Homo sapiens: one gene and its partners. The protein of the gene in region 1 interacts with the protein of each later gene in a biochemical or structural test. Each region holds a gene or a part of one and is shown in the gene's direction. Other genes may lie near its edges.

Region 1 (5,430 bases):
TCATCGCAACCTCTGCCTCCTGGGTTCAAGTGATCCTCCTGCCTCAGCCTCCCAAGTAGCTGGGATTACAGGTGTGCGTCACCATGCCCAGCTAATTTTTATATTTTTGTAGAGACAGGGTTTTGCCATGTTGGCCAGGCTAGTCTTGAACTCCTGGCCTTAGGTGATCCACCCACCTCAGTCTCCCAAAGTGCTGAGATTACAGGCATGAGCCACCACGCCCAGAGGCCTTGGCTTTTATAGAGTAGGACATCAAATCCTTCCAGCCAGGATCAGAGAGGAGTTTTGTGGAGGAACCTTGGTTGAATGGCTTTCTCCACTGTTCCCTCACAGTGTGGTCTTGGGTGGGACCCTTGCCCTCTGTGGGCCTCGGTTTCCCCATCAGTTGTTACACGCCTCCTGCTGAGGTTGTCCCATGACCATCTTGTGCCATGTCTCTCAAGAGGTTTCTGCTTTGCTCAGCCCTTTCCTCAAACTCTGTCAGCTCTGGAAGCCCCGTGGGGGCCTGAGGAATGTGTCTCTGGCTTATGGCCCAGAACAGGCACAGGGAGGTGGCGGGGGCTGATGGAGAATAACACGGCCAGAGAAGCTGCTGAGTTGAGTCCCAGGCCCAAATCCTGGTGGGTTGCCTTGGTTTCCCTAAAGGAGTGTCCAAGAGGCCACAGAAGCAAATAGGTTCTCGGTCCTTGGTTGACCCAGATATAAAATAAAATAAAATTTAAATAAAGAAAATAAAATGTAAAGTTTTATTTTATATTTTAGGTATATCTATTTAAATGCCATGGATGCATTTTTTTTTCTTGTTTTTTTTTTTTTTCGAGACAGGGTCTTGCTCTATCACCCAGGCTGGAGTACAGTAGTATGATCTTGGCTCAATGCACCCTCCACCCCCCGGGGCTCAAACAATCCTCCCACCTCAACCTCCTGAGTGGCTGGGACTACAGATGCATGCCACCACACCTGGTTAATTTTTTTTTTTTTCTGAGATGGAGTCTCACTCTGTTGCCCAGGCTGGAGTGCAGTGGCATGATCTCGGCTCACTGCAACCTCCGTCTCCCGGGTTCAAGCAATTCTTCTGCCTCCGCCTCCTGAGTAGCTGGGATTACAGGCACCCACCACCATGCCCGGCTAATTTTTTTATTTTTAGTAGAGATGAGGTTTCACCATATTGGCCAGGCTGGTCTCAAACTCCTGAGCTTGTGATCCACCTGCCTCAGCCTCCAAAAGTGCTGGGATTACAGGTGTGAGCCCCTGCGCCTAGCTTTTTTTTTTTTTTTTTTTTGAGATGGAGTCTTACTCTGTCGCCCAGGCTGGAGCAGTGGCGCGATCTTGGCTCACTGCATCCTCCGCCTTCCAGGTTCAAGCGATTCTTCTGCCTTAGCCTTCCGAGTAGCTGGGACTACAGGTGCGCACTACCACGCCTGGCTAATTTTTTTTTTGTATTTTTAGTAGAGACAGGGTTTCACCATATTGGCCAGGCTGGTCTCGAACTCCTGACCTCGTGATCTGCCTGCCTCGGCCTCCCAAAGTGCTGGGATTACAGGCGTGAGCCACCACACCTAGCCAATTTTTTGTAGAGACAGGGTTTCACCATGTTGCCTGGGCTGGTCTCCAACTCCTGGGCTTAAGGGATCCTCCCACCTAAGTCTCCCAAAGTGCTGGGATTGCAGGCCACAGTGCCCAGTCTAGATGCATTTTTTTGATACTTAAAAAAAGCTGACTCTAGAGTGTTGATCCTTAGAAGCTTAAGTGTATCAATCATATTTTAATGGCAAAGTTAAATAATAGAATGCCACATAAATGATATGGATATAAGAGACTTTCCCCACATGCCTCATTACTTTGATATTTATAGTCAGCAATGCGGTTTGAAACCACTGACATTCATCGAAATGTCATATTTTAGTTGACTTGAAAGCTCTTTTAGCTTCTGTTGTTTGAAAGTTTAGTCTATGGTAAAATTTCTGCTATAGACACAATTCAAATCCACATTCACACGGAGGTCCCCTCACCTCCTCATCTTTATTTTTTATTTTTATTTATTTATATTTTTGAGACAGAGTCTTGCTCTGTCACCCAGGTTGGAGTGCAGTGGCGGGATCTCGGCTCACTGCAAGCTCCGCCTCCCGGGTTCACGCCATTCTCCTGCTCAGCCTCCCAAGTAGCTGGGACTACAGGTGCCCGCCACCACGCCTGGCTAATTTTTTGTATTATTAGTAGAGATGTGGTTTCACCGTGTTAGCCAGGATGGTCTCGATCTCCTGACCTTGTGATCTGCCCGCCCCGGCCTCCCAAAGTGCTGGGATTACACGCGTGAGCCACCGCGCCCGGCCCACCTCCTCATCTTTAGATTAAAAATGTATCTATCTGGGTTCCCATGTATGTCGTTTTGAGAAGGTAGTATCTGTAAATGTGTGACCTTGAAGCATCTTCTGACTTTAGGAGTGAATACTCAAGCCTTCCCTCTAACTCATGTCATGCATTCCTCCTCACTAAGCCAAGAGACATTCATGGACATCTACTGTGTGCCTGCTGTGTATATTAAGGTCAGAAGCTAAACTACACCCAGGGCCTCTCCTGAAGGAGCTCACCATGTGGTAGGGTAGACAAAACATAAACACTATCTCCTCTACACAAACTGTGTTTTTTTCTTGAGGCAGGGTCTCACTCTGTTGCCCAGGCTGGAGTGCAGTAGTGCGATCTCAGCTTACTGCAACCTCCTTCTCCCAGGTTCAAGCGATTCTCTGCCTCAGTTCTGTAGCTGGAATTACAGGTGTGCACCACCACGGCCTGGTTAATTTTTGTATTTTTAGTAGAGACAGGGTTTTGCCATGTTGGCCAGGCTGGTCTCGAACTCCCGGCCTCAGTGATCTGCCTGCCTGGGCCTCCCAAAGTGCTGGGATTACAGACGTGAGCCACCATGCCTGGCCTACAGAAACTCTTTAAAAGCCGGTGGCTAGGTGCTGTGACTCACGCCTGTAATCCCAGCACTTTGGGAGGCTGAGGCGGGTGGATCACCTGAGGCCAGGAGTTTGAGACCAGCCTGGCCAACATGGCGAAACCCCGTCTCTACTAAAAATACAAAAATTAGCTGAGCCATGGTGGCGCGTGCCTGTAATCCCAGCTACTCAGGAGGCTGAGGTAGGAAAATCTTGAACACGGGAGGCGGAGGTTGCAGTGAGCCGTGATTGTGCCGCTGCACTCCAGCCTGGGCGACAAGAGCAAGAATCCATCTCAAAAAAAAAAAAAAAAAAAAAAAAAAAGCTGGTGCCTGAAATCCTGTCTGCTCTGCAATAAATCTCTGTTTGGCCTTGGGTAAGACCCTTGCCTTCTAGGGGACTCAGTTTTCCTATTGAAGTTAGGCTAGATCAGAGGTGATCAATAGCTTTTATTTAGAGTGGCAGCTCCAGGCAGGCGTGGTGGCTTACGCCTGTAATCCCAACACTTTGGGAGGCTTAGGTGGGCAGATCACTTGAGCCCAGGAGTTCGAGACCAGCTTGGGCAACACAGTGAGATTTCATCTCTGTAGGAAAAAAAAAAAAAAGAGTGTAAGCGTCAGCTCCACTGGTGGTTCTGTGAGTTCCATATTTGGAAGGATTGGGAGGCTTTGTCTGGGCTCAGCAGAAAGGAGCTGGAATTGATTAGCAATGTCTACTACAGATGCAGTAGAGAAGTAACATGTGTATCATCCCAGGACTGAGGGGCCCCTGCTCTTATATTCTCTGAGATGTTTCACAGGACGAGATCATTCCTTGGTGAACCCTGCCTATGGCCTGGGTAAGAGAAAGAAGAATGTGGCCTTCATGTTTTTCCCCACTTTTCCTTAGTTGAAGTCTTTTTCGACCTATTCTCCTGGCCCAAGATCTCATGGAAGGAGGTCATTCCACTCAAGATAGCACAAAGAGGGGAGGAGGAGTGGTGGAAGGCACTGGAGTCAGGAATCTCTGAATGGCAAGAGTGATCAGAGAGGTCTGAAGGATAGGAGGATGCTGGGCTGTGGCTGGTCCTTGAGACTTTGGGGAGTGGAGAAGGTCTGGGCCTGGCAGTTGCACCAGTCTGGAGCAGCCAGGGTTCCTGGGACCCTCTCTGGGCCTAGGTTTCCCCGGAGTTGAATCACTGACCACATTGTTCAACATTTCCCCACTCACATCCCATTACTGAGGACGCCTCCAAGGGGCCATGGAAGGATGGCCTGTCCTTTGGATGTGAACTTGGCAAGGCAACTGGATATTTTTCCAGCTCAGTGGATAGTGAATCCCCTGAGGATGTCCTGGGAGAACAAGCATTACCAGCAAACTCCAGGTGTCAGCTAGAGCCTTACTTCCCTGGCCTAAGTTGGGGGCTCAGCTGAGCCTCAGCAACCCCAACCTGCCTCCTAGAACATTTCTTCTACTAGGTCAGGGGTTTGCAGAAATGTCCTGATCCTGTTCTCAGCCAGAGGGGTGTGTTTGTGACCACAGTCTGGGCCCAAGTTGGCAGCCAACAAGTGTCTGTCCGCTGCTTCGAGAGGCCCGTTGTGTGTGCAGACCTCAAGCCAGGGCCAGCCTGGGCCCTTGAAGGCCAGGCCTGGGGGAAGAGGGAGGGACAGCCTCAAGGAAAACACCCTTCCCTCCTCCCATTCCAGTGTGGCTGGCAGGACTGTGACAACAGTGAGCCTGTCATGCATTAAAAATAATGCTGGCTGGGCGCGGTGACTCATGCCTGTAATCCTAGCACTTTGGGAGGCTGAGGCAGGCAGATCAACTGAGGTCAGGGGTTCGAGACTAGCCTGGGCAACATGGTGAAACCCCGTCTCTACTAATAATATACAAAAATTAGCTGAGCATGGTGACACGCGCCTGTAATCCCAGCTACTCGGGAGGCTGAGGTAGGAGAATTGCTTGAACCCAGGAGGCAGAGGTTTCAGTGAGCCAAGATCGAACCATTGTACTCCAGCCTGGGGCAACAAGAGCAAAACTCCATCTCAAAAAAAAAAGAAAAAAGAAAAACCCGACAAAAAACAAAAAATAATACTAAGGCCAGGCAAGGTGGCTCACGCCTGTAATCCCAGCACTTTGGGAGGCTGAGGTGGGTGGACCACCTGAGGTCAGGAGTTCGAGACCAGCCTGGCCAAAATGGTGAAACTCCATCTCTACGAAAAATATAAAAATTAGCTGGGCGTGGTGGCAGGCACCTGTAATCCCAGCTACTCAGGAGGCTGAGACAGGAGAATCACTTGAACCCAGGAGGTGGATGTCGCAGTGAGCCAAGATTGCACCACTGCATTCCAGCTTGGGTGACAGAGTGAGTCTCTATCTCAAAAAAAAAAAATTAATAAAGTGAATTTTAGTGCTTTATATAAAGTAAGGAAGGTATAGCCCTCATAGAGATCAGGCTTTTATTTATTTATTTAGGATCTCACTCTGTTGCCCAGCCTATAGCACAGAGGTG
Region 2 (5,014 bases), on another chromosome or scaffold:
AAATCTACATGACATCTCTAAATATTTTACATATTATACATCACTTTGTGCTTAGGAAATGAAAGATGTTTCAGATTGATGACCACCAAGCCCTTTCTCCTGGCAAAGATGTGAGTTATGTCACAAATAAGGCATGGCTCAACTCTAATTCACGTGGCTGTATCTTGCTACCTTTGAAAAAAGCAGCGTTCGATCTGACTCCTCAGAAGGTTTGAAAATTCAACATAAAACATAAAGTACAGCAAGGTTTAAATTCCCAATTTTAAACAAACTAGATAATGAAATGTAGTTCATTCTTGCAAATACAGGCTATAAGTGATTAATCAAAATCGTCAACACTACTCGCCAAACCAATCTATACCAACATATTCAATAACTTTTTAAACCTGTCAAATAGTTCCAATTCTGGTCCTTATGAAATATTTTAGAGAAGGTCAAAATTTTCCAATGGAATGAAATTTTTAGAAATTCCCTGATATTTATTATTTTTTCGCTCGAATTAAACCTGTGAATAAAACCCTAATTGCTACTTTCTGTAGAAATGAAAGCTGCATGCAGAGCTTATGTTCCCATGAATTATAAAATGGCATTTTGAGTAATTCTATTAATCACAGAAGATATTGAGTGTGCTTGTAAAGAGCATGATGACTGATTTCCTCCCATTGTTGATTTATTAAATTAGTCTTATCACATTGATTTGAAAGCATGCACTTGCTGTTTTCTTTTTTCAAATAGTTAATTGTTTTGCATTTAGAGCATGATTTGGTATAGTAAGATAAATGTGGCTATGCAAGCCTTGGAAGGAGAAGCATTTATCTCACATAATTTTTTATTAGTTATGTTCACCAATATACGAACAGTGGTGACACTTCTACACATACAGCTTGGAACAGTTTATAAGACAACTAAAATGGCTTTATATTTCTAATCATAAAATATTAATGGCCTATGAAACTCTTATGTAGGCATTTCTAAAAACATGAATGTATATTGGTTGAGTACATAAAGTTTTGTTGATGAGCCCCAAGGCTAAAGATATACATTTTAGAATTTTACCTATTTTAAGTCAGATACAAACTCACTAGGTTTGTGAGTTTGTATCTAGTTAAGTCAATTGTATTCGTATATTAAACTCTTGCACATAAACTACACAACAGTTAGCTCATTAAGAGTCAATTGAATGTGACAAAATTTTTAAGCAAGTTTGAACATGCTAAGAGAAAATACTTTAAGTGTGTTATTCAGGTTTCTTAGCTTCCTATACATGGGTCCCGCCTCATGCATAGGCAATTTAATTATGTCTTTGTATATTTTGCATTTAAATATGATTTTAACCTAAGTTGTACAAAAAGATGAGGGACGCAAATTATTTTGATAAATAACTGCAGCCAGAAGTGCACTATACATATATATTGATATTTTAATAATGTCTGCACCATGAACAGGATTTGAGGTCTCAAAGAAGAAAAAAGGCTCTAGAAATTTCTCATCAGTGGTATCAGTACAAGAGGCAGGCTGATGATCTCCTGAAATGCTTGGATGACATTGAAAAAAAATTAGCCAGCCTACCTGAGCCCAGAGATGAAAGGAAAATAAAGGTAATGTTGTTTTAGAATGTCAATACCAGATTTTATTATACAGTTTAATTAACCTGTGAAGATCATATTTAAAATGTTGATGTTCTTGTTTCTATTAACGTTCTCTTTGATTTGATGCATTTCCTTGTATTGTGTGTTGTTTTCAGTAAATGTATTGTATTAAGTGTTATTCAATTGACGTAATGTTGAATGAATAAAATGTTTTAGACTATGTAAAGTGATTTAAGAAATGTGATGTGTTTTCTGGTAAAATTGTAATTGACTTTGTGTATCTTTGTTCCAGATGAACTAATGACTTATCGGTATATGGACGACTTCTTACTCATGTTAGCCCATTCATTTCATCAGAGCATCTTCACACATCAGTGTTCACTCTCTATAGATTTATTTGCATATTGTCTAAATATGTTTTTTTCTGTTATTATTTTACACTTTTTATTTTGCTTCATTCTCTGTTGAGTTCCTCAAACCTTTAAAAAGGAAATAAATAACTTATTCACTTACCCTCTAAATTATATTCTATGTGGACGGTCCCTAATAAATAATGAGTTATCACTCCAAATTGTTTCAAATCCCAAGACACCAGAGGAATTTAGAAGAAAGAAAATGTTAGACCAATTTCAATATTTACTTAATTAGAATATCTAAAACCAAGCATTCAAAGGATAACTGAAATAATATTTGGGTTATTGAGCGAGGATGACAGTCATGCCTTTCATATTTGTAAACTTCAAAGGATGACAATAAAGGGACAACAGCCTTTGAAATTTTGAGAGAAGTATTTGCTGCTTGCAAGTCGGTTGATGTGGTTAGCTAACTGCCCTGGGCCCTGTATTGGTTTTGCTCAATAGGAAATTGATCGGGAATTGCAGAAGAAGAAAGAGGAGCTGAATGCAGTGCGTAGGCAAGCTGAGGGCTTGTCTGAGGATGGGGCCGCAATGGCAGTGGAGCCAACTCAGATCCAGCTCAGCAAGCGCTGGCGGGAAATTGAGAGCAAATTTGCTCAGTTTCGAAGACTCAACTTTGCACAAATTGTGAGTTGTTACTGGCAAACCCACGTATGTGTTTGCAACTACTACTCTATTAACAGAGGCCTACTAATAAAAAAAAAAGAGACAAAAAATCTGGGTACAGTTTTAAACTTCTAATGTACATTCTGAAAGTGAGTGGTTTCCCTCACTTTGGGCTTCTGTAACACTAGTGCTTAATTTTGCCAATTAAAGACACAAGAAATTAACAGATAACAGGGAAAACCCCTTATCAAAAATGAAAATACATCTTAATTTTTTTTGCTACATCATTTTTCATAACATTGGCAATGTTAATTTGTCAATTTATCATACATTCACTTTACTTCAATGTCTAATCCAAAAAATATGTATTGCTTTCCTGAGATCATCCCATGCTGATTTTACTTTCTTAATGTATACATGATAAATAATAAATATTTCATGGTACATCTTATGTCAACCTGCATAAGCCATTATCTCATTGACTTGAAGAATAATAGCTTAATCCTCACACCTGGTTTAACTACTTAATGGGTTACAGTGCCCATAAAAGAACTGGATGCCTAGTAAGATGGTTGCTAATTGATTGCAGATTGAACAATATCAGATAATGTTATTACTGAAATGTTACCAGCCAAAACAAAAAGGAGTGACTGCTCTTCTTTCAAACAACTGAATGGAAAGTGTATGGTTCTCTCTTTAAAAAGGCGATTCAGAATTGTTAGCTTGGTCTCACTTCTTTATTTGTAGTAGGTATAAACCATAGAGGTTTTCTGACAGGTACATTTTTGTTCCTATTATTAACACTTGTAAGATGAAGAGGAATGATCATCATCTGTAATTATAGAAGAAAGTACTCCTCACAAAACCAGGATGTCAAAATCTGGAAACTAAGTCTTTATAGTTAAGTTAGGTTGAATTATATGAATCAAACAGATACTCAACCATTTTGCCCTATGTAAATAATAACTGCATAGGGTTCAGCCCATGTATGAGACTTCTTGGGAACTTCTTCTGTGATAGTGTCAGTTCCATTTAATTTGGTGTATATTTTTAAAATGTCAAAAGCAGTTACCATAACTTAATTTTATAAGCATATAAGGGAAGTATGTTGCATATTATTGTGACTTCTTTTAATACTTCAAGAAAATTAATAAATACACTGTTTTCTGTTAAATCTAATACCCTAAAGTTTAATAGCAGGTGAATTATTCTGAGCAATTGGAAGAATACGAGAAATAGCGAAACTGTATTGCATGTGAAGTCTAATTCCACCTGGCTGAATGTTTCAGCCTATTATCCTTCATATTAGATGTTATGAATGTAATGTGTCATAAATAACCTTACACTAACCAGCAAGCCTGTGTCTGCAGATGCAAAATGAAGCGAAAGATTAAGGCAATCAAAAAGAAAATTCTAATAAAATAGTTTCACCTCAATTTAATAGATCATTCAAGGGGGAGTCCTTTGCTTTGAATTATCTGACTACTAACTCATTTCTCCATTCCAATTTTCCCCAGGTCTTGACACACCCAATATGCAGGTTTAAAATTCGTTACAAACTAATCAAGTTGCTAATGCTTTATGGCTAAATAGGCACAGGATCAAAAATCTCCATAAACCACTTACTTAAAATGCCATTATGTCCCTATTCATAGTAGGCTCTCAACAAATATTTGTACAACGTAATAATGACTGGTGAAATAAAGGAAGCATGTGTGAACCAGTATATATTTTTAAAAAATTGTAGTAAAATTCTGGGATATATTTTCCTCATAAACGATTTATTCTTAAGTTTTATATATTAAAGATCCAAAATTCAGAATGTGAAGGGGGCTATTTTTGTGTTAACTCTTAATTATCCATGATAATAAAGTAATCACAATCTGTATGAAGAATAATCAATTTAATATTGCAGTTATATTTGGCATCGTATTTTAATTAGAACTGAGGGATAATTGATAGATGATAAGTAGGTATATAGGTTGGTAGGTAGATAGATAGACAGGTGGGTGTAGAAATATTCAAGATACATCTTTATACTTGACCAATTGTCAATGCATTTTAAAACTAATTTCACTGTGGCCACTGATTAGAGTTATCTTTCCCAATTCTTACGCCCTAGAGTCATTTGTGATAGTCACAGTAACAGCTTAATGAAAAGTAGTATTTGATATAACCTTACAATGGCTCTGATGCAGCATATGCCATAGCTTCAGAATTTCTTACCTCCCCCTATATTCTCCTTCTCTAATTGTTTGATTTTTACTTTTCCTAACTGTCCCTTTTTGTTTTTCTAGATATAAACTGTAGGCTTAAAGTTCATCTTTCATGTCTTTACAGCAACATGTTGAAATAGTAAGCGGTACTCTTAAAATGCTTAGTATGTGAGAGCTGAGTGAGTTT
Region 3 (5,014 bases), on another chromosome or scaffold:
AGCTTCTGGAAGATCTGCCCTGGGTGAGGTGTCCACAGCAAGACTCGCGGGGCACAGGGGTGGCCGTCTGTTCTGCCCACCCTGAGCCTTGATGGCTGAGCCTTGAGCAGCTCAGCTAGGGGACCAAGGTGGCCCAAGGACAGCTCTGCCAGGCTGCTAAGGAGCTGGCCGTGCTCACTGGGAAAAGTAGCCCCTCCGAAGACCTCCCGCCCCCTTCCCCAGACACAGTAAATTAAGAATAATGACTGGAAAATTGCAGCTGCTGCAGCTCAGCTGGTTCCTGAGACGGCGTGTCTTGTTCTTACAGGGACGCGATTGTCACCACCTCCATCAACTCCCTGACGAGCTTCTCCTCCGGCTTCGTCGTCTTCTCCTTCCTGGGGTACATGGCACAGAAGCACAGTGTGCCCATCGGGGACGTGGCCAAGGACGGTGAGCCCCTCCTGCTGCACCTGGGCCTGCTCCGTGTAGCACCAGCGCCGAGCTCTCAGCAAAGCCTTTTTCCTTGTGAAAGAGGAAGGAGACGCATGGGCCCTGAGCGACTTCAGTGAGAGTTGCTGCCTCACTCTTGAAGGATGGTGGTACACATCCCAGTACAGACCTGCCCCCACCCAGCGCCTTCCCCGCCCTGACCCTCCAGGCCCCCCACCCAGCGCCTTCCCCGCCCTGCCCCTCCCGGCCCCCCACCCAGTGCCTTCTCCGCCCTGCCCCTCCAGGCCCCCCCACCCAGTGCCTTTCCTGCCTTGTGCCTCTCGGGGCCTCCACCCTGGGCTGGGGAACCTCAAGCCCAAATGCAGCTGAGCAGCATAGTTGGTGCCTCAGTCCCTCGACTGCTCCCTGCAGATGCCACATGAGGCTGCCCCACCAGGGTCTGGCGTAGATGCTGTCACTGAGGGCCCTCTAGATGTTTGCTTGCCACGCGGTGTGGGAACATGCAGCTCAGGGAAGGGGAGGAATGAGCTGTTCCAGCAACACCTGGAGGCAGGCTGGGATGCCGCAAACATCAGCTTGGCCACAGAGCAGCCGGGAGATCCCTGGGGCCTCCAGCACAGGGTGTCCCTGCCCGCTCCCCAGGCCGACGCATGACGCTGAGTGTCCCTGCACGCCTGGAGTTGTCTCCGAGAGGGTGGGGAGGGGTCCAGGTCTCGGGCAGGCACAGGTGAGTGGTGGGGGGAGGCCTTGGCCACAGCAAGAAGTGTGCCAGGCAGGATGGAGCCGGCAGGACGGGCACAGATGCAGGGGCTGAGAGTGGGCCCAGGCACTTGGGGCCACGTGCCTGGCTCCGGTGCTTGCAGTGGAAAGCTGTGGCGTTGGCAGCCCTAACTTGGGCCAACCGAGAGCTCCAGGGAGTCCCAAGGCTTCTCGGTCTCTGTCAGCCAGCAGAGCCCCCGCCTGCCTCCCGGCCTGCTCTGCCACATGGATGTGGAGGAGGCCCTTTCGCTCCAGACACGGGCCTGGGTTGGGTGGGCTCCCATGCTGCGTCCCCATCCTTGCTTCCTCTGGACTGTCTTCTCCGGGGGTGGGGTGGGGGCACTACATTTGTGAGGAATGATTGTGCTCAGAAAAGCCCCTGTCCCGTGTGGGTGTTGTTGCTGACTGATCTCTGCCTGGGTGTTGAGGCTCAGTGAAGGCGGGGAGCGACAAGCACCAAGCGGGGGCAGCCTTGACCGCACCTGAGTCTCACAGAGTGGGGCACTAGGACCCTCGCACCGCAGGTAGGAACACGCTCAGAGACCTGAAAGGGCCCACTCCATGCTTGCAACAGAAAGCCAGGGTCGGGGCTGGAGCCACAGCTCAGAGGTGGGCCTCCTAAGCCCATGTTCTTTCCACTAGGAAAAAAAATTCAGTCAAAGCGGGAGAAAGGGAACATCTGCAAATAAATGCAGAGCAGTGAAATTTACTCGGTGCCGCATTTATGCCTTTTCTTCATTCTTTTTGCCCTTTATTATGATAACGAGCATAGTTTGCAAAAACCTCTATTAACCCCTGAAAATAAAGTTGAATGTTCTTCTGTGCATTTCATGACAAGCAAAGTAAATGTCATTTACAGCCTTAATTCTCAAGAAAATAGGGTGAAATGTTAACTTAGGTACAGAAACGAAGGCACGGGTGTTGACATTACATTCCCTGAGCTGATGAATATCTTCCCAGGCTCCTGGCTGGTACCATCTAAGCCCCGGAACATCTCAGGCGAGCCTGCCTCCCCCACCCCACGCGGAGGCTGTCCCCATCCACCAGGGTATCTGGGAGCTGCGAGAGCCCAGGTCTGACCCCGCTGCTTGGCTGATAGTGAGGCCCCTGAAAGACCTTTAGGAACGGCCCCTGGCTCTGGCCTTTGATTATTTAAAAGGCCAGGCGCAGGCCTATTCCTGCAGGCTAGGGCCAGACACGTGCCTGCTGAGGACAGGGGACTCTGTTGCAGGCAGATTGGGCTTGGGAGATGGTGCCAGCCAGTGGAGGATGCAAGGCTTCTGAACTGGTCAAAGGTCAATTGCCTATGGGACTGGTTTTTACTTTGGGGTCATCAGAGACCAAACTGCGTTGACTTTTGGTCGCCTGCCTGCCACACTCTCGTCCCCTCCACCTCCATCCGAGTCTGCCTGCTGGTAGCAGGAAGCACGTGTCGTTTCCCGAGAGAGCTGTGGGGGAACACCTCCTCCGCCTTTGCCATGCCGCCCTCAGCCTGGCGTGCCCCTCGCTTGCAGGGATAGCAAGGTAGCAGGTTTGTCTCTTATCTCCGAAGCCACCATCTGGGCCCCTGTATCCATCAGGATGTGCTGCTCCTCTGAGCCCTCAGGGCCCCAGCTGACAGGAGCCTGTCTCAATATGGCCTGCGGGACCCCGTGGCAGGGGAGGTGGTGAAGGAGCCACACACTCCTCTACCAAGCTTCACTCGCAGGGACCCGCTCACTGTGGGTTCACAGCACATTGGCCAAGTGCAGCCACGTCTAACCTCACGGGAGGGTGGGAGGACCTCAGCTTCCTCATGTGCCTGGAAGGCGGAGGTCAGGAATGTATCCCTAAATGTTTTGCTAATTTTAGAAATTAGGCTACTAAATAGTGTGGACGTGTGTGATTTGTGTGTGTTTGTGTATGTTTGTGCATGCACGTGCATGTTTCTGTTTGTGTGCGTGCATGTGGATGTGTTCTTGCATGTATGAGTTTGAATGCACAAATGAGTGTTCGTGCATGTGCGCGCATGTGTCTGTGTGTGTATATTGCATGGTATGTGTGTCTGAGTGTGTATGTTGCATGGTATGTGTGTCTGAGTGTGTATGTTGCATGGTATGTGTGTCTGAGTGTGTATGTTGCATGGTATGTGTGTCTGAGTGTGTATGTTGCATGGTATGTGTGTCTGAGTGTGTATGTTGCATGGTATGTGCAGGAAAAACTAACTCGAAGGACATTAGCAGATGTCCCTGGGATGAAGGGCAGGACCAGCCTGGAAGCCCCTCCTGCTCCTCCTTGTTTCTGCCCCTTCCTTCCCCAAGCACCCCCATAGCCCAAAAGGACCCAGGTAATTTGGAGGAGCCCCATTGCTGGGTGGTGGGCATGAACCAAAGCCCTCTGATCAGTTCTGGGTTTCCGCTTTCCTGAGTCCCAGGCCTGGTCTGCTGGACATATAGAAGGGGGCTTTTCAGCAGAGCCGCACCAGCCCTAGTCTCTACAGGCCTGTGGCAGGCCATGCTTCTCGGGGCGGGGTGGGGCAGGATGGGCGGGAGAGCACAGCGTGGGCTCTGTGGCAAGCAGGGCGGGTTCTGTTTCAGGGCCAGGGCTGATCTTCATCATCTACCCGGAAGCCATCGCCACGCTCCCTCTGTCCTCAGCCTGGGCCGTGGTCTTCTTCATCATGCTGCTCACCCTGGGTATCGACAGCGCCGTGAGTAACCCGCACCGCCCGGCCCTGTCCTCGGCAGTTGGGTTCCTTCCACCCGAGGGGGCCCTGCCCTCCCAGGGCTAGGCAAGATCCCTGGGCTCACGTACGGCCCCCAGACCTCCTGTCCTTGACTTGGGCGAGCCCCGTGATTATTTGGGAGACCTTTCTCGGGGCTGGAGTGAGTGGTGACTGGAGTTTACCTTTCCCTTTATCCCCCTACTCTGGGGTACCTGTGTGCCCTGCCCTGAGCCACCTACAGATCCTGGAAATGTGCACACACATGCACACACACACATACACGCACACACATACACACATACACGAACACACACATTCACACCACCATGCACATGCATGCACACACATACACACATGCACACACGCACACATACATGAACACACACGAACACACACATGCACACACGCATGCACACACACATACACACAGACATGCATGCACGTGTAGCAGGGCCCCAGCCACCAAAGACTTGGCTCCGGACACCAGAGTGGTGGGGCCTTGGAGGGCACACAGCAGGTCCTTCATATCTCGTGGCTTTCCCTGGAAGCCTCAGCTACCCCATGAGGAATGAGGAGGGCAACAGAAGTTCCTGGCACCTACCAATCCCAGGCCTGGCCCTGAATGCTTTGTGTGTGGCCCCTGCACCTCCAGCTGCTGGGGGTGGCGGGTCCAGCCCTTGATCGGCCCTGGGCCTGCTGGACTTTCTCAGGCTCCTTCTTCCCTGTCAGCTGCTTGGGACCAAAGAACCCAGAATCCCTTGCCTTATAAACGCTGGTCATGCACCCGGCCCCCCACTCATATCCTATCCACCTCGTCCACGGCTCCTGGGTTGACCACAGGCCTCATGTTCCTGACATGAGAGCATGAAGAGGGGTCTGGACCGAGCAAGGTGAAGAAGGTCACTAAGCAGGAGTCAGGTGCCTGGACGGTGTCCCACAGGAGGATGCCAGGAGTCAGGAGGCTCCGTCGGGAAGGCGTAGCCAATGACAAGGCCAGGTGCAGCTGAAAGCTTTGTGTGGGGGACGCATCTTGCTCAGGAAAATCTGGCCAAGCTGAGCCCGTGCAGCAGCAGTGGACAGGGTGGCATTGTTTTAGCCATGCCGCATCTTACCCACCCA
Region 4 (5,014 bases), on another chromosome or scaffold:
GCTACAATCGGCTCTTTCCAATTTGGCTACAACACTGGGGTCATCAATGCTCCTGAGAAGGTGAGTGCCAGGCCACAATAATTAGAATTTAGAATAGGGAAGTTATTCCTTTAAGTAGGGTTTCAGGAATTCAGAATTTAAGGCCAGGCATGGTGGCATCTGCCTGGAGTCCCAGCTACTCCTGAGGCTGAGGCTTAAAGATCACTTGAGTCCAGGAGTTAAACACCATCCTGAGCAACACAGTTAGTGAGGGTCCCTCCCCAAACTAGGGGATTTTAAGACAAACTTTGTATCTATCCTGTCCAAGACTGAAGATGGAGACAATATTGGTGGGGAAAATTAGTGGGGTCATCTAATCGAAGCACAAAGCTCACTTACTCCCGGAACGCTGGGCGGTGCTGTTCTTCCTCCCACTCTTTCACCTCATAGTGATGCACATCCTGTATTATCCCTTAGGGGTTAGTTACAAAGAAGCTGGGTTCCCTTAGCAGAGGGCTGGGGTAGACTGTGAACATCGGTGCTGCCACCTACTGGGATTTTCAGGACAAATAGAATTACTATTCCAGCGAGAGTTAACATAAATTCCAATACGTTATCTGCCCCTTCCATTCCTGTCTATTTATTCCCTTGATTCTCTAGGAAGGAAATGATCCCTAATGTTTGTCTTTTGTTCTCATCCAACTGTAACAGTCTGTTCTTCCACCAACCCTTTTATTTTGCAGATCATAAAGGAATTTATCAATAAAACTTTGACGGACAAGGGAAATGCCCCACCCTCTGAGGTGCTGCTCACGTCTCTCTGGTCCTTGTCTGTGGCCATATTTTCCGTCGGGGGTATGATCGGCTCCTTTTCCGTCGGACTCTTCGTCAACCGCTTTGGCAGGTATTGACTAGAAACTGGGCAAGGAAGTGGGCTCTACCAGCCACATTGAGGACAAGTGTGGAGAGTTAGGGCAGGGAGGTGATGATGCCTTTGAATAAGAACACCTTGAATTCTAATCAAGGGAAACCTAGTCCAACTGGCCCCGAATATGACTGCCCTTGCTTGGAGCTCTACTACCCTGGAGAGCTCCCACCCAGCTGTGCAAGAGATGAACTGTGAGTGATTGGCCTTTGCAGTCCAGCTAGGGATAGTTCAGAATTATTCCCTAGTAAACTCAACTATGGGGTTTCTAGAAACATACTTAATTTACAAGGTCCGAAGTTGTTTACTTGTATTATAAATGTTTTTATTATTTTACCCAGGATTGGTAGGAATTATTTTTGTCTATGGCAAATGTGGATAATGACAAAAAAAAAGTCTTATTCTATAGAAGCTTAACAATATGTTTTAGAAGGTAGAATATATTTTCATTTATGACTAATGAAGGAACTGTTTTAATTTGCCAATTAGGCACGGTGTGGTGGCTCACCCCTGTAATCCTAGCACTTTGGGAAACCGAGGCAAGTGGATCAGCTGAGGTCAGGAGTTCGAGACCAGCCTGGCCAACATGGCAAAACCCTGTCTCTACCAAAAATACAAAAATTAGCCGGGCGTAGTGACAGGCACCTATAATTCCAGCTACTCCGGAGGCTGAGGCAGGAAAATCACTTGAACCTGCAGTGGGGGTGCAGAGGGTGCAGTAAGCTGAGATCTGGCCACTTCACACCAGCCTGGGCGAAAGAGCAAAACCCCGTCTCAAAAAAAAAAAAGCCGGTGCCGTGGCTCACGCCTGTAATCCCAGCACTTTGGGAGGCTGAGGCGGGCAGATAACAAGGTCAGGAGATCGAGACCATCCTGGCTAACACGGTGAAACCCTGTCCCTACTAAAAATACAAAAAATTAGCCGGGCGTGGTGGCATGCGCCTGCAATCCCAGCTGCTTGGAAGCTGAGGCAGGAGAATCTCTTGAGCCTGGGAGGCGCAGGTTGCAGTGAGCCGAGATCCTGCCACTGCACTCCAGCCTGGGTGACAGACCAAGACTCCGTCTCCAAAAAAAAAAAAAAAAAATGCCAATTAGATATTCTAGAAATGCAATTGGAATTCACATTTAAAAATCGGTAAAGCAACCTGTTTTACTTGATTATGTTGTTCTTTTGTTTTTTTACCCCCCAAGAAAGAGGGTCTTGCTCTGTCACCCGGGCTGGAGTGTAATGGCCCAATCATAGCTCACTACAGCTTCGACCTCCGACCTCAGCTCCCTGAGTGCCTGGGACTACAGGCGGGCACCATCACACCTGGTTCCCAACTAGAAATGTTCTGATAATAGAAAGTGAAAAACAAAAGTTAGATTAAAAAAAAAAGGGATGATATGAGCCTGGAGAAGAACAGAATAATGAGGACAGAGGAGAAGTTAGGAGCCTCTCACTTTGCTAATTCTACTTTGTCTTTGATTAACCTTACAGGCGCAATTCAATGCTGATTGTCAACCTGTTGGCTGTCACTGGTGGCTGCTTTATGGGACTGTGTAAAGTAGCTAAGTCGGTTGAAATGCTGATCCTGGGTCGCTTGGTTATTGGCCTCTTCTGCGGACTCTGCACAGGTTTTGTGCCCATGTACATTGGAGAGATCTCGCCTACTGCCCTGCGGGGTGCCTTTGGCACTCTCAACCAGCTGGGCATCGTTGTTGGAATTCTGGTGGCCCAGGTACTCTAGAACTTCTCATACTTAATGAGTGTTAGTTTCATGGGTCATTAAAAAAGTTAACATAGGTAAAGCACTGAAGAATATCTGGCACATGTTCAATTACATATGGAAGTTTTAGATAATAGATAGTAGCTGAAGAAGCAGGCTGAGGCCGGGCGCTGTGGCTCACGCCTGTAATCCCAGCACTTTGGGAGGCCGAGGTGGGCAGATCACGAGGTCAGCAGATGAAGACCAGCCTGGCTAACATGGTGAAACCCCATCTCTACTAAAAACACAAAAAATTGGTCGGGCGTGGTAGCGGGCACCTGTAGTCCCAGCTACTCCGGAGGCTGAGGCGGGAGAATGGCGTGAACCCGGTAGGCAGAGTTTGCAGTGAGCCGAGATTGTGCCACTGATCTCCAGCCTGGGTGACAGAGCAAGACTCCGTCTCAAAAAAAAAAAAAAAAAAAAAACCATGCTGAGTAGAGAAAGGAAAAGAAACACAATTTGTTTATTTTTTCACATGGTAAAAGAATGTATGATTTTCTGAACTTTTTGTGTTTTAATGAACTTGTGGCCTGTGAAGTATGGGGTTTATAGCATTATCTTTGTGTGGTTTCTAGATCTTTGGTCTGGAATTCATCCTTGGGTCTGAAGAGCTATGGCCGCTGCTACTGGGTTTTACCATCCTTCCTGCTATCCTACAAAGTGCAGCCCTTCCATTTTGCCCTGAAAGTCCCAGATTTTTGCTCATTAACAGAAAAGAAGAGGAGAATGCTAAGCAGAGTGAGTATCCTTCACACCTTACTACATGAATTATATGGTTGTGGTTTGTTTTAGGGATGATTGTACTGGACCTACTTTCTGTTACACTCTTTCCCTGCCTCTCAGAATCCAAGTGAGGAGGGTTCTGATTACTCCTGAGTAAAATTTTCAGCCCCTAAAGAATGAGGTGAAAAGGCGGGTTTAGGAATGGATGCTATCAGGCAGGGTGTGATGGCTCATGCCTGTAATCCAGCATTATAAGAGGCCGAGGCGGGTCACCTGAGGTCAGGAGTTCAAGACCTGCCTGAAACAACATGGAGAAACCCTGTCTCTACTAAAAATACAAAATTAGCCGGGCATGGGGGCGCATGCCTGTAATCCCAGCTACTTGGGAGGCTGAGGCAGGAGAATCGTGTGAACCCGGGAAGTGGAGGTTGCAGGGAGCTGAGATCATGCCATTGCACTCCAGCCTGGGCAACAAAAGTGAAACTCTGTCTCAAAAAAAAAAAAAGGAATGGATGCTACCCATCACCTCACCTCGTGCGGCCCTTTCCTGGCTGCCTTACAGGAAGAATGAATTTGGGGCAGCACATTCTCTTTTATCCTTTCCTCTTTCTTCTTTTCACCAGTCCTCCAGCGGTTGTGGGGCACCCAGGATGTATCCCAAGACATCCAGGAGATGAAAGATGAGAGTGCAAGGATGTCACAAGAAAAGCAAGTCACCGTGCTAGAGCTCTTTAGAGTGTCCAGCTACCGACAGCCCATCATCATTTCCATTGTGCTCCAGCTCTCTCAGCAGCTCTCTGGGATCAATGCTGTGAGTGTGATACTTTAGGGTCAAACGTGTCTTAAAGTATTTCACTTAAAATGCCGGGCATGGTGGCGGTGTGCCTCTGTAGTCCCAGCTACTCAGGAGGCTGAGGTAAGAGGATCACTTGAGCTCAGGAGTTTCAGGTTGCAGTGAGCTATAATTATGCCACTGCATTCCAGCCTGGGAGACAGAGTGAGACTGTGTCTCTGAAATTTAAAAAAAGGAAAAAAAAAAAAGACCCTGGAAGGACACTGGCAACTTCAGAGTGAACTGACTTTACCAGTCTGTTTTTACAACTAGTATAGCGAGCATGGTAGTTTAAAGAGGGCATGATAGATGATAGTTTAAAGAGGGCGGCACAACGGAAGCTAGCATTTGGCAGGTAGCCCTTGTATTCCATGCAAATATCAGCTTCCTGCATTTGACTGTGGATTGTAGGAAGAGAGTATTCCTGTGCCTTCTAGTCAATATGGATATTAAGAGCACCCTTGTCCCACCTTTTTAAATACTGATTCATCCCCTAAGGGTTTTCAGATAGTCTTTGATCAATGGGATTAAATTATTTTGTAACAAAGCATTTTGCAAAACTTACTATTTTGAGCATTTTGATGCTCAAAATAGTAAGTTGGTTCTTGGAACTTTTCTCCTACCTAGCACACCAGGATATTTGTATTTGAAGTGGCAGTGCTTCTTATGAGGGGTTAGAGGCTGTTATGTCAGAATCTATGAGGAGCCAAGTGTGGTGGCTGCTCATGCCTGTAGTCCCAGCTACTACTCGGGAGGCTGAGGTGGGAATATCACTTAGGCCCAGGAGTCAAGCCTGGGAAATATAGT

What was found. Proteins that work in one complex are often made in the same cells at the same time.
Region 2: the proteins of SNTA1 (region 1) and DMD form a complex in vitro, tested with the Homo sapiens proteins (2 studies listed by BioGRID, with this or other methods).
Region 3: the proteins of SNTA1 (region 1) and SLC6A3 interact in a test that uses a peptide from one of them, tested with the Homo sapiens proteins (2 studies listed by BioGRID and IntAct).
Region 4: the proteins of SNTA1 (region 1) and SLC2A3 interact in a test that uses a peptide from one of them, tested with the Homo sapiens proteins (2 studies listed by BioGRID and IntAct).

The regions. Positions count from the first base shown.
Region 1 is NC_000020.11:33,432,816-33,438,245, reverse strand, and holds part of SNTA1 (alpha-1-syntrophin), read left to right. Parts: intron 1-5,430. UniProt on the Homo sapiens protein: Adapter protein that binds to and probably organizes the subcellular localization of a variety of membrane proteins. May link various receptors to the actin cytoskeleton and the extracellular matrix via the dystrophin glycoprotein complex.
Region 2 is NC_000023.11:32,339,718-32,344,731, reverse strand, and holds part of DMD (dystrophin), read left to right. Parts: intron 1-1,445; coding exon 1,446-1,598; intron 1,599-1,881; coding exon of another isoform or gene 1,882-1,890; exon of another isoform or gene 1,891-2,365; intron 2,366-2,449; coding exon 2,450-2,632; intron 2,633-5,014. UniProt on the Homo sapiens protein: Anchors the extracellular matrix to the cytoskeleton via F-actin. Ligand for dystroglycan.
Region 3 is NC_000005.10:1,410,109-1,415,122, reverse strand, and holds part of SLC6A3 (sodium-dependent dopamine transporter), read left to right. Parts: intron 1-307; coding exon 308-432; intron 433-3,767; coding exon 3,768-3,880; intron 3,881-5,014. UniProt on the Homo sapiens protein: Mediates sodium- and chloride-dependent transport of dopamine. Also mediates sodium- and chloride-dependent transport of norepinephrine (also known as noradrenaline). Regulator of light-dependent retinal hyaloid vessel regression, downstream of OPN5 signaling.
Region 4 is NC_000012.12:7,928,856-7,933,869, reverse strand, and holds part of SLC2A3 (solute carrier family 2, facilitated glucose transporter member 3), read left to right. Parts: coding exon 1-60; intron 61-722; coding exon 723-883; intron 884-2,384; coding exon 2,385-2,625; intron 2,626-3,227; coding exon 3,228-3,390; intron 3,391-3,998; coding exon 3,999-4,186; intron 4,187-5,014. UniProt on the Homo sapiens protein: Facilitative glucose transporter. Can also mediate the uptake of various other monosaccharides across the cell membrane. Mediates the uptake of glucose, 2-deoxyglucose, galactose, mannose, xylose and fucose, and probably also dehydroascorbate.